Linked DNA regions of Homo sapiens. The protein of the gene in region 2 purifies or fractionates together with the protein of the main gene of each other region. This does not show direct contact. Each region holds a gene or a part of one and is shown on either strand. Other genes may lie near its edges.

Region 1 (3,600 bases), on a different chromosome or scaffold from region 2:
TTGCCAGAGGCACAATTAAGCATTGTTGCCTTGTTAAGCATTGTATCATTAGCCCCTATCGCAAAGTGAGAATTCGCTCAATATTCCCTTTAAAATACCTTTTAGTTGATACTGCCAAATCCTTTTCTAACCCCATCAATTATTTGACTCTAAATAAATCCGTTAGGAACAGTGGTAGCTTCAGGTTTCCATACAGGTGGGACTTGGAAGTAGCAATATGGTAAGAATGGGGATGTAGGGGTTTATTTAGAAACTGCATTTGCATGGCAAGAAAGCTAGTTTCATATATGTTGTTTATTTGGACTGGGGTTACGGAGATAACGAAGAGGGGGTAGTTAAAAGCCTCTTCAGGCCATGCCTTATCACAAACGTGTGGGAAAGGTTAATATTTTCCAGGATCGCCAGTGCGTTTGAGGAACTGTTAACACACTCTTTCATTTAAAAGGAAAGTTTTTAGTTTTATTTGCCTATTAATTCTAAGGCAGGGATGACTCCTCAATTTGCTTCTTCACCAATATAAAAAATGTCCATGTATTGGTGTTTACTTTTTAAAAGTAAGGCTGGTATTAATTTACCTCAAAGCACAGATGAGTTCATAAATAAGCAGTTATGCTTTCGTGGGATTTTCCATAAACATACAAATTGTATTTGAAAAAAAATTATATGACGAGTCTATACCTCACACTCTAAAAAGTTACCTTTCAATTATATACTCTCCCTTACACTACTCCCCACATATCAACGTTTCATTGGTCACTTCATTAACATAAGTTTGGACTAGTTTAAAGTAGTGAGGGGTAACTTTTTACTTCGAACACTGAAGGCTGCTAACTTTCCACTTTAGCAATTTAGCTAGTCAGGTTTTATCATCTGTTCTGGAACAAGTAGATGCACTTACCTATTGTGAGGTCGTGGACAGGCTGGAACCGCTTATCTGTAAACTGCAGGAGGAGACATGACTTCCCCACACCTGAAAGAGAAAGCACACTCCCGGAATCACGCAGCCCTGGAACACCTTCCAGAGTATGGACTTCCCGGACCAGAGAAGGGGGGCTCCCGAGCCCCGCCCCCGGCCGCCCCGAACCGCCCCGCCCGTCTCGAATCGCCCAGCCCACAAAGTGAGCCCCGCCCCCGCCACCCAATTTGGGAGCTTCGAATGCCCGCCCGAGCCTTGAAGGCGAACCACCTGAGGGTTACCTGTGTCTCCGATGATGATATACTTGAAGAGATAAGCATAAGTCATGGTGTCGCGTCCTCTGGGTTCCGGGTCCGCCCGACTTCTATAGCCACTTACCTCCGACCTCTCTAGCCACTCAATCTACCGATCTTCTTCTTCTCCCCCTTCCCCCCGCTCCCCCGCCCCTCCGGCTCCTCTAGCCCAGATCACGTCTCTATTGCACTCCCCGGAATCATCCTTAGGTCGGGAGTACCCTACGCCACCTCCAGGGACGCTTCTAGCACTTCTACATGCCCTTATCCCTCCAAACTCCAGGGGGCGATAGCCCAGCGCCTGACTCTCTGCAGCCCCACGGCGCTCCTTCCAATCAGCAGAGAGAACACACGTCCTTGCGGAAGTGACGGCAGTTCCGAGTCCAGTGGGGGCGGTGGGAGCGATGAGGGTCTGAGACGGTGGGAGCGGTTGTGTGAAGATGGAGGTAGGAACCTGATAGCTAAGAAGGCTGGCGAGAGAACGCGGCCGACCGGGTTGAAGCAGGGACGGGAAGCCGGGCGGAGAGGCGACTGACGGGAGAGGAGAGAGAGCGGGGTTTGGGGAGTGTTGTCAGAATGTCAGGGTCAAAAGCCATCGCTCCAAGCTGACTCCCTGCTCCCCCTAACTTATCCCCGCGACTTTCTTTTGGTTTCCAGTTTCCCGGAGGAAATGACAATTACCTGACGATCACAGGGCCTTCGCACCCCTTCCTGTCAGGGGCCGAGGTGAGCCAGAGCTGCCGACGCCGCGGGGGTAGGGCCTGAGGCAGCGGTGGGGTAGGGTAGTGGGGAGGAGAGCACGGACTCCGGGGACGGGGGCTGGGAACCAAGGGCCGCAATTGGTGTTTAGAGAAAAGTGGCGGTTGCTTCTAGAGCCTGTGGGGACTATCTGGGGAAGTCTTGGGAAGTTGCTGTCATCAGAAAGCAAGGTATTGGAAAGAGATAACCTGTTTAAAGAGAAAAGGGATTCTGGATTAGAAGACAGAGTGGAATTGTCTCCTTTCTCTGGGGAGAAATAGCTACAGTAATCTTAGGGGATCGCAGTGGAAAGAAAATGTTTCAGCAGCTGAAGAAATTGGGGTTGAGGGGAGGAGCTTATTGGTTTTCTTTTGTTTTGAGACAGAGTCTCGCTTTATCGCCCAGGTTGAAGTGCAGTGGTGCGATCTCGGCTCACTGCAACCTCTGTCTCCTGGGTTCAAGCGATTCTCCTGCCTCAGCCTCCCGAGTAGCTGGGATTACAGGCGTGCGCCACCACGCTCGGCTAATTTTTGTATATTTAGTAGAGATGGCAGTTTCACCATATTGGCCAGGCTGGTTTCGAACTCCTGACCTCAGGTGATCCACCCACCTCGGCCTCCCGGAGTGCTGGGATTACAGGCCTGAGCCATTGCGCCCGGCCTAAATTTCCTACTTTGATAAAAAATTTGTGGTTACCTTTACCTACATGGTGTCAGCTTGTTTTGCTAATGTCAGGAGGAAAGGAAATAGCTGCTAGAGAATATAAAAGAGTTGAGTAGGACATGTGTTTCAATTTGCCAGTGACTCAGACGTTGGGCACATTACTTCATCTTTGTATGTCACAGTTTCCCCAGCTGTCAAACAGCTGTAATTATAGTTTCTTATGCTGTTTTAAAGTAGAAGTAAAGGTTATGATGAAACCCTGAAGTGTTCGTTAAAAAAGTTTGGTTGAAATATTGTCATAATATAGATATGTATCACTTGTTTGGGAGAGGCAAAAGAGAATGGTGGAACAGACAAAAATTTCTGTCTTTGAGAAACTGAAGTCTTGAACCATCTGCCATTTTTTGAGGACTTTTATATTTATTTTCAAAAGTGGTGTGGACCATTTGCATCAGTTTTTTTTACCAAGAATTGTCAGTGGCTGTTGCATGGGCTTATCCTATAATCCTAACGTTTTCATGGATGAAAATGGGGTTGACAAGGGCCAGTTGCTAGTTTAACTTTTTTTTTCTTTCTTTTTTTTTTTGAGACAGTCTCCCTGTAGCCCAGGCTGGAGTGCAGTAGCACGATCTTGGCTCACTGCAGCCTCCACCTCCTGGGCTCAAGTGATTCTCCTGCCTCAACCTCCCAAGTAGCTGGGAATACAGGTGTGCGCCACCACACCCAGCTAATTTTTTTTTTTTTTTTGAATTTTTGTAGAGACGGGGTTTCACCCTGTTACCCAGGCTCTTTAACTCCTGGCCTCAAGTGATCTGCCCGCCTCAGCCTCCTAAAGTGCTAGGATTACAGGCATGAGCCAATGTGCCCAGTGCCAGTTTAACTTTTTTGTTGCTTTTATTTATTATTCTCATAAGCAGGATAAGTGTGAATCTAGTATGCAGCAAACTTTGAAATGATATAAAACCTAAATCTGGGCCCAGCACAGTAGCT
Region 2 (3,823 bases):
GGAGTCTCATCCATGGAACACTCCTGAAAGAAGAACAAAAAAAATCAGGATTGACAGAACAGAGACATTCTCATATGAAAGATGCACCGAATTCAATGACCATCACAACTTCCATCATCACAGAACATTGACTTACCTCATCTAGGGGGATGAGTTTAGGGGGTATGGGCTCGTAGGGCTCAGGATCAGGCTCATGAGGACTATCAGGAACAACACAGGTGAGAGAAAAAAGAATGATAGTCAAGTTATTAATTCAGACCCTGAAAGTAATTTCTAACCTCCACCCCGTAATTACCCCAGCTCATGTTCCCTCAGGAGTGTCCAAGCACTCAACATCCCAGGGCACGAACCCCACTCTGCTCACCTCTCCTTGTTCAGGAAGAGCTCCTGAAGGATTCCCTTCTCCCGCTCAGCCTGGATATATCGCTCCTGACTATTGCTTCCAGGGGTGACAAGAGGTGAGGGCAGAACCAGGGGCCGGGGGCACACCCAGGGCACCTTCTCCTCCATGTTATCATGGCTCAGACGCCGCGCTGTCTCAAATGCATGTCGGTCTGACAGTATCTCTCGCTTAGCCGCCTCACCAAAGTCCTTGATCTTATTCACATTTACTGTCGGCAGGGGAAGAAAAGCAAGAGGGAAAGTAAGCACAACCAAGTCCTTTCAAAATCCCTTAAACACACCTATTACGTAGGAAATGACCTCTTACCTCGTTCAGTTTCATCCAATTCAAAATAGAAATATTCTCTCAGTTTGCCTTCCTCAGGCCATGTCACACTTTTCCTCTTCCTGCCTTTCCGGGTCAGTTGGTTAGGATCTCCAGGACTCTCCACTGGCTTGGCATCCAGAGCTCCTGGCTCCAAAGAGGCTGGAAGCAGAAGAGGTTTCAGACCCAGATCCCTCCTTTCAGAAAACCCCCCAAACTGAACCAGTTTCTAGATTACCTGTATCCATGAGCTCCGGGACTTCAACAGGGGGAACCGGGGTGCCTGGACGGTCTGCGTCCATTGCCTCAGAAGGTGGTGCTGGTTCTGGGGAAGAAGGTTTGGCTGTGCTTGGTTCTGTGCTCGTTTTCCCTTCAAAGGGGCTTGGCTATTGTGAAAGAAAAGGAAGTTAATGAACTGACTGGAAAGCCAAGGGCAAGGCAATTAGTCCAGGGTCCCAGGCACAGTCCCCCAACAGTTCCTATATAAAGGAAGACTCTGTCTCCACAATGTCTCACCTGCACCAGTCTATATCCAAGGCAAAACGCCTCTTGTTGTCCTCCCCGACAACTCCTAGCTGCTGTGCCCTTTCTTCTACTTTACCTTTTATACTCTGTCACTGAAACCTACTTCTGGGAGCCCATACCTTGGCAGCCGTAGGTGACAGTACTTTTTTTTTCTTCTTAATTTTGATGCCTGGAACAGGGGCTGAATTAAGAGCATCCAGAAAGCCCAGGCCCTCCATAGCTACAAAAAGAAAGAGCACCAAATGGCATCATCAGACCTCCTTCATAATCCTACACCTGCAAACACAGTCCAGGCATAAAATGAGCCAGTGAAGACCCTGCCTCAACTTAGGACACGATAAGCTCAAGAGGACCAGGAAGCACATGCAGGAGGATTCACACAGGATATTCTTGTTGTTATTCTAGGTTTCTCATGGCAGGCAAGCCATAGCTTTGGATGTGAATTATAGCTCAGGTAGCTGACGAAGTGAGCCCTTGTGAACATGACAGATCACCTTACCAGGTGCCCCTGACCAGTCACAGAATGGCACACGTCCCTATCTTATCTCTAAAATTACTCCTAAGTGACCCCTGAAACGGGAGTTCCAGAGGTACAAAAAGTAAGGGATACCAAGAAATCAAAGGAAAATGGAGGGAAATAATAAAAGAGAAGGGAAAAAACTTCTCGTTCCCAGGGACATTCATTCCCATAAGAGTTTGCTCCTGGCCAGGTGCGGTGGCTCATGCCTGTAATCCCAGCACTTTGGGAAGCTGAGGTGGGTGGATCACGAGGTCAGGAAATCAAGACCATCCTGGCTAACATGGTGAAACCCCATCTCTACTAAAAATACAAAAAATTAGCCGGGCGTGGTGGCGGGCACCAGTAGTCCCAGCTACTCGGGAGGCTGAGGCAGGAGAATGGCGTGAACCCGGGAGGCGGAGCTTGCAGTGAGCCAAGACCGTGCCACTGCACTCCAGCCTGGGTGACAGAGTGAGACTCTGTCTCCAAAAAAAAAAAAAAAAAAGTTTGCTCCTAATTCAAAGTACATCTTCCCCACTTTAGACTCACGCTGTGGCGGGATGATCTTCACTTTGATCTCTTTGGTGGCATTAGGTGTTGTGTTGAGTGGCTTGTATTTCTTCTCTGCAGGGGGAGTGGCATCTCCTGGAGCAGCTACGTTGCTGTCAGAAGAGGAACTGTCATCAACATCTCCGACTCACCCCCTCCTGCTCCCTTGTGTCCACAGATCCACCCCATTCAGAGCCTGAGAATATGGTCCATACCTCTGACGTTTGAGGGGGATGGGTTTAAGGTTGTACTTGTCAGAAACCACCACTGTGCTGGCATTCTTCTTCACAGGCACCAAGGATGGTGTCTCCAGCTCTAGTCCTGGGGAAAGAAGCACGGTGTGGGCAGCTGAACTCAAACCCCAGACCCCCGAATTTTCCTCCCGTTCTCACCCGCAAATGTTCTTCTAGCCTTGTAACCAAAGCTTCCTCTGCTAGTCTTCCCTCTTCCTTACGATTAACATACCACACATCAAATGATTCCCCCATAAGGCTCTGGGTGTGCACATGCCCATGAACCCTCCAGAGGCCAGCCGCCAGTCTTACCAGTGGAACGGAACTTGGCATGACTGGGTGCTGTGGTGCGAAGAGACTTGGGCTTCTCCCTCTTCTTCTCTGGGGCCTCCTCAGCCCGGGTCTCAGCCTTCACCTCTGTCAAAGGTCGCTCAGGAAGGGTAGTTCGACTTTTTCCTTCATCTTTACGTTTCTTCTTATCTTTCTCTGTTGTGAAAAAACAAAGCAGAAAAGGATTTTATTTAGATGAACACTGTCAGAGGTGAAGCAGACTGGGAGCACCTAAAGGCCACATCCCAATAGGAAAGAAATAAATACAAAGGATAAAGGACTAAGGAGCTTACCAGCAGGCTGGGTACTGCTCTGAGAGCGGATGACAGCCATCCAGTCGCTGACAAGGACTGAGGCCAATTTCCGGAGCTCTGCAGGTGACAGAAAGGGGAAATGCCTAAATAATGTAAAGTAACATTCTTCCAGGAACAGAAAATGGGAGGTTTGAGAAAATATTGTGAAAATTTATGTAACGGAGAAAGTAACCCAAAGTTTTAAGAAGAACATGAGATATGCTTAAAAACCAAACCCTTAAAAAATGGAACAATGAATTAGAGTTGTGTTCTACTTGGATAACTTTCAACTCTGATGTCATCACACCACTCTGGAGTAAAAAGACCTAATATTTCAGAATATGTGGTTAAAATCTACATTAGTAAAAGACTACACGTTGGGTGCAGTGTACACTGCTTGGGTGATGAGTGTACCAAAATCTCAGAAATCACCATTAAAGAACTTATACATGTAACCAAAATCCACCAGTTCCTCAAAAACTGACATTTTTTTAAAAAGCTACGTTAGTTGCTTTATGTATAACACACCTAATTGTTACAACAATCTGAAGACTTTTTATTTTCCTTTATAGATGTGAAAACAAGAATAAAATTTGTTTCTAAATATATGAAAAAATACTTTGTAACTCTTTCCTTTTGTACTTGGCAAATAACATCTCTGATCTATGGCACCTCTCTTCTGGCCAAC
Region 3 (3,823 bases), on a different chromosome or scaffold from region 2:
CAAACAAACAACAACAAAAAAGCAACACCAACTTAGACCTAAGGATGTGACTTTTCAGTAGAAGTATTAATATTTCTTTATCTGGCTAGAAAGGGAGATTCAGGAAAACGTATTATTACTGTTAAAAGCGAAGGTTGCTCTGTAGAAATGTATCTGATCTATTTTTCTGGCAAATCACTGACACGAGCAATAATAAAAACTTCCACACATTTTTATTGAAAACAAACTGGTAAAAATTTGAATTATAAAAGAATAGCAGCCAGATGTGGTGGCTTGGGCCTATAATCCCAGCACTTTGGGAGGCCGAGGTGGGAGGATCACTTGAGCTCAGGAGTTAGAGACTAGCCTGGGCAACATGGTGAAATTGAGTCTCTACCAAAAATACAAAATATAGCTGGACATGGTGGCGTGCGCCTGTAGTCCCAGCTACTCGGGAGGCTAAGATGGGAGGATCACTTGAGCCCGGGAGACAGATGCTGCATTGAGCCGAGATCATGCCACTGCACTCCAGCCTGGGCCACAGAGTGAGATCCTGTCTCAAAAAATATAAATAAATAAAATAGCATTGGTGATTATTTACAACACCAGCTCTTTCTCATAAGCAATACTAACTTTTGAAAGTTAGCTGCTGGCAAAAAGCAAAGCAAAGATGGAAACTATGGAAGGAAATTTAAGACAAGTTTGAGATTATTTATAAGGAATAAAAAAGTATTTTCCTTGCCACATAAAGGCCCCTTAATTGTTTAAATAAAAACATATTAAAGAAATAGCATATACTAAAAAAGCCCTAGCTGAATTCTAATGAAGTTTCAGAACCTAAGAAAGGCACAAGTGGTATAAAAATAAGCCAACGAAGATTTTGCTGTTTTAAAATAATCCTGTTAAAAAGTAGGTGATAATTTTAACAATATGCCACATCATATTCATTTCAGTGAAATCAATAGCCTCATGATATTTGACAGATTTAGGAAAATAAGACTCAAACCAAAACAAAAAACAGTAAATACTTCCAACATTAAGCATTCCCATAAACGACTGAGTTCTTTTCTGCAAAAAGTATAAACCACAAAAATGTTATCAAGAATCCTTTGGGCCGGATGCGGTGTCTAACGCCTGTAATCCCAGCACTTTGGGAGGCCAAGGTGGGTGGATCAGCTGAGGTCAGGAGTTTGAGACCAGCCTGGCCAACATGGTAAAACCCCATCTCTACCAAAAATACAAAAATTAGCAGGGCATGGTGGTACATGCCTGTAGTCCCAGCTACTCAACAACTGAGGCTGAGGCAGGAGAAATCGCTTGAACCTGGGTGGTGGAGGCAGCAGTGGGCCGAGATCCTGCCACTGCACTCCAGCCTGGGTGACAAAGAAAGACTCAAAAAAAAAAAAAAAAAAAAAAAAGAAAAGAAAAGAAAAAAGAACCCTTTAAGTTTCTCTGCAAAGTCACCAGCAGAAAGACTTCCATGTTCTGATTATCACAATTGTTTCCACACCCTGCCCTCTCCCATCCTGATTTTCCTAACAGATGGGGTTACACTTCAGGCATTGAGAAGTGACACCAAGGCAGGGAGCTGTGGTTCACGCTTGTAATCCCAGCACTTTGGGAGGCTGAGGTGGGAGGACTGCTTGTGGCCAGGAGTTAAAGAACAGCCTAGGCAACACCCCTGTCTTTAAGAAAAAAAGAAAAAGAAAAAAAAATTAGCCAGGTGTGGTGGTGTGTGCCTATAGATCCGGCTAGCCAAGAGGATGAGGAGGAAGAATCGCTTGAACCCAGGAGTTCAGGTCTCCAGCCTGGGGACAGAGTGAGACCCAGTCTCTAGTAAAAAAAATAAAAGTGACACCATTTTTTTCAAGGCAGATAGGATGTGGCTGCAAAACACTGTCTACTGTTCTCAATAAAGCATCTTGAGTTTTCTACACCTCGAGTAAAGCCAATCCATTAAAAACTTTAATTTTCACAGTCTAAGAACACATTTCGGTAATATACCACTGAGTAGACTACATTTTGAGTTTTCATTTGCTGTAAGCTTTACTGTCGGTGATGACCACTACCTTCTAGAAGAGGGATGACAGTAAACCCCAGTGAAGTGGGGAAGCTGGAGATTTCAGACAAATCACCAAGATCCACAAACACATCATCTGTTCTTGATGCTTTGGATACAGAGGTATGATCTTAAAATATCAAACTCTATCCTGGAATTCCATAAGCTCCATGGAAATGAAATCCTTCCTTCTTGGTCTTGAATGACTTTCCAGTTCTTTATCTACAAAGCGACTGACACCCAGAATATTATCTCCTTCATATTTTAATCTCTCAGGTCAACTAATGGCCTCAATTGTAAATTAAGTTAAATGGTGAAGTCCACATAACATCAATAATTTCCCTGCTTCACCATCAGGAATCCTCACCTAGTCAAGTGGGCTGACTGGTACTGTGATTCTGCACAACAGGTTACAGGTTGTAATAGGACTGTGCTTTCAAAGACATCAAATCACCTCACTAATTTCTACAGCTGACCACTGCTGGGCTACAACTGCATGTCCATTTGCCCAGTTATGAGGAGGAACACCCTAGGCTCAGAATGCAGAGCGCTCCTGTGTGTCACATCCCCCGCAAGCACAACGTCACACACAATTCTGTCAGATTTCACTGCTGCCTCCTGCTACTGACAGGCAAGAGGGCACTGCGGGCACAAGGAGAGTAATCCTTTTTCAATGCTGTGGTTTAAAAAAGGACTCCTGCAAGCTGCAGATCATCTGTCTCCAACAGAGCTTTCCCACCTTGCCTAGGAGGAGAGGAAGTGGGCATATGACCAACATACTGATGGGAAAGGAAGGGCAAGGGCTCACATCAGAGTTCTTATCAATGAGGGAATTAGAAACTGACAACTTGGATGTGAGTGTAAAAATTACCTGCTCTGTAAACAAATAATTACAGGCTGGGCACGGTGGCTCATGCCTGTAATCCCAGCACTTTGGGAGTCTGAGGCGGGCAGACCACTTGAGGTCACGAGTTCAAAACCAGCCTGGCCTCATCTCTACTAAAAATACAAAAACTTGGCCGAGCGTGGTGGTGCATGCCTGTTAATCCCAGCTACTCAGGGGGCTGAGACACCAAAATCGCTTGAACCCGGGAGGCAGAGGTTGCAGTGAGCCAGGATCCCACCACTGCACTCCAGCCTGGGTGACAGAGTGAGACTCTGTCTCCAAAATAAAATAAAAAAATAAATAATTACAGGTGTTCATTAGGAAAGATTACTTTTGTTTTTTTTTTTGGTTAGCATATTAAGAAACCTTCCCCTTTTTAAACCATTATGTTTGTCCTTTATTATCTTTAGGACCAGGGATGGCTAAACACCAGAATATGAACGTTTTATACTGCATCAAAAAGATGAACATATGGGTTATTTAAACAATCTTAGAGTTTCAGAATATCTGAACACTCCCTACCTTCAGAACAACCCTTATGTATCAGAGGATTAAATCTGTAAGCACTTTCTGTGAGCCAGGGCAGAGATCATATTTAAATCACTAAAACAAGTCAGGCAATTCTGCAGAGCCTGACATGGTCTTGCACTTTGACAATGGCCTTCTTCAAAGCAAAGATGCTTCTTGCAAACCAAGATGTGAAGTAAGTTACAACCACCTGCTATGCAAAAAAAATGCTAGCCACCATGGCTCCTTGAAGGAGGTCATTTACAAAGTAAAACTGCCCCAAATCTCACTTGTCTTCAATACATCAGACCAAATCAACAGCTGGCTTATTTTCTCTCAAAATGCCGTTTTACTGTGTAGTTATTTAAATAACTAACATCAGTTATACTAAG

What was found.
Region 1: the proteins of PPP1R10 (region 2) and TOX4 purify together in Homo sapiens (affinity purification with mass spectrometry; 4 studies listed by BioGRID and IntAct, with this or other methods). This does not show direct contact.
Region 3: the proteins of PPP1R10 (region 2) and PPP1CC purify together in Homo sapiens (affinity purification with mass spectrometry; 10 studies listed by BioGRID and IntAct, with this or other methods). This does not show direct contact.

What each region holds. Positions count from the first base shown.
Region 1 is NC_000014.9:21,475,630-21,479,229, forward strand, and holds the start of TOX4 (TOX high mobility group box family member 4), read left to right. Parts: upstream 1-1,565; 5' UTR 1,566-1,649; coding exon 1,650-1,655; intron 1,656-1,866; coding exon 1,867-1,935; intron 1,936-3,600. Other genes in the region: RAB2B (ras-related protein Rab-2B), read right to left, coding at 899-970, 1,198-1,243. UniProt on the Homo sapiens protein: Transcription factor that modulates cell fate reprogramming from the somatic state to the pluripotent and neuronal fate. In liver, controls the expression of hormone-regulated gluconeogenic genes such as G6PC1 and PCK1.
Region 2 is NC_000006.12:30,603,644-30,607,466, forward strand, and holds part of PPP1R10 (serine/threonine-protein phosphatase 1 regulatory subunit 10), read right to left. Parts: intron 3,214-3,823; coding exon 3,136-3,213; intron 2,999-3,135; coding exon 2,825-2,998; intron 2,601-2,824; coding exon 2,495-2,600; intron 2,393-2,494; coding exon 2,280-2,392; intron 1,452-2,279; coding exon 1,351-1,451; intron 1,093-1,350; coding exon 945-1,092; intron 869-944; coding exon 710-868; intron 612-709; coding exon 365-611; intron 201-364; coding exon 137-200; intron 24-136; coding exon 1-23.
Region 3 is NC_000012.12:110,736,105-110,739,927, forward strand, and holds part of PPP1CC (serine/threonine-protein phosphatase PP1-gamma catalytic subunit), read right to left. Parts: intron 1-3,823. UniProt on the Homo sapiens protein: Protein phosphatase that associates with over 200 regulatory proteins to form highly specific holoenzymes which dephosphorylate hundreds of biological targets.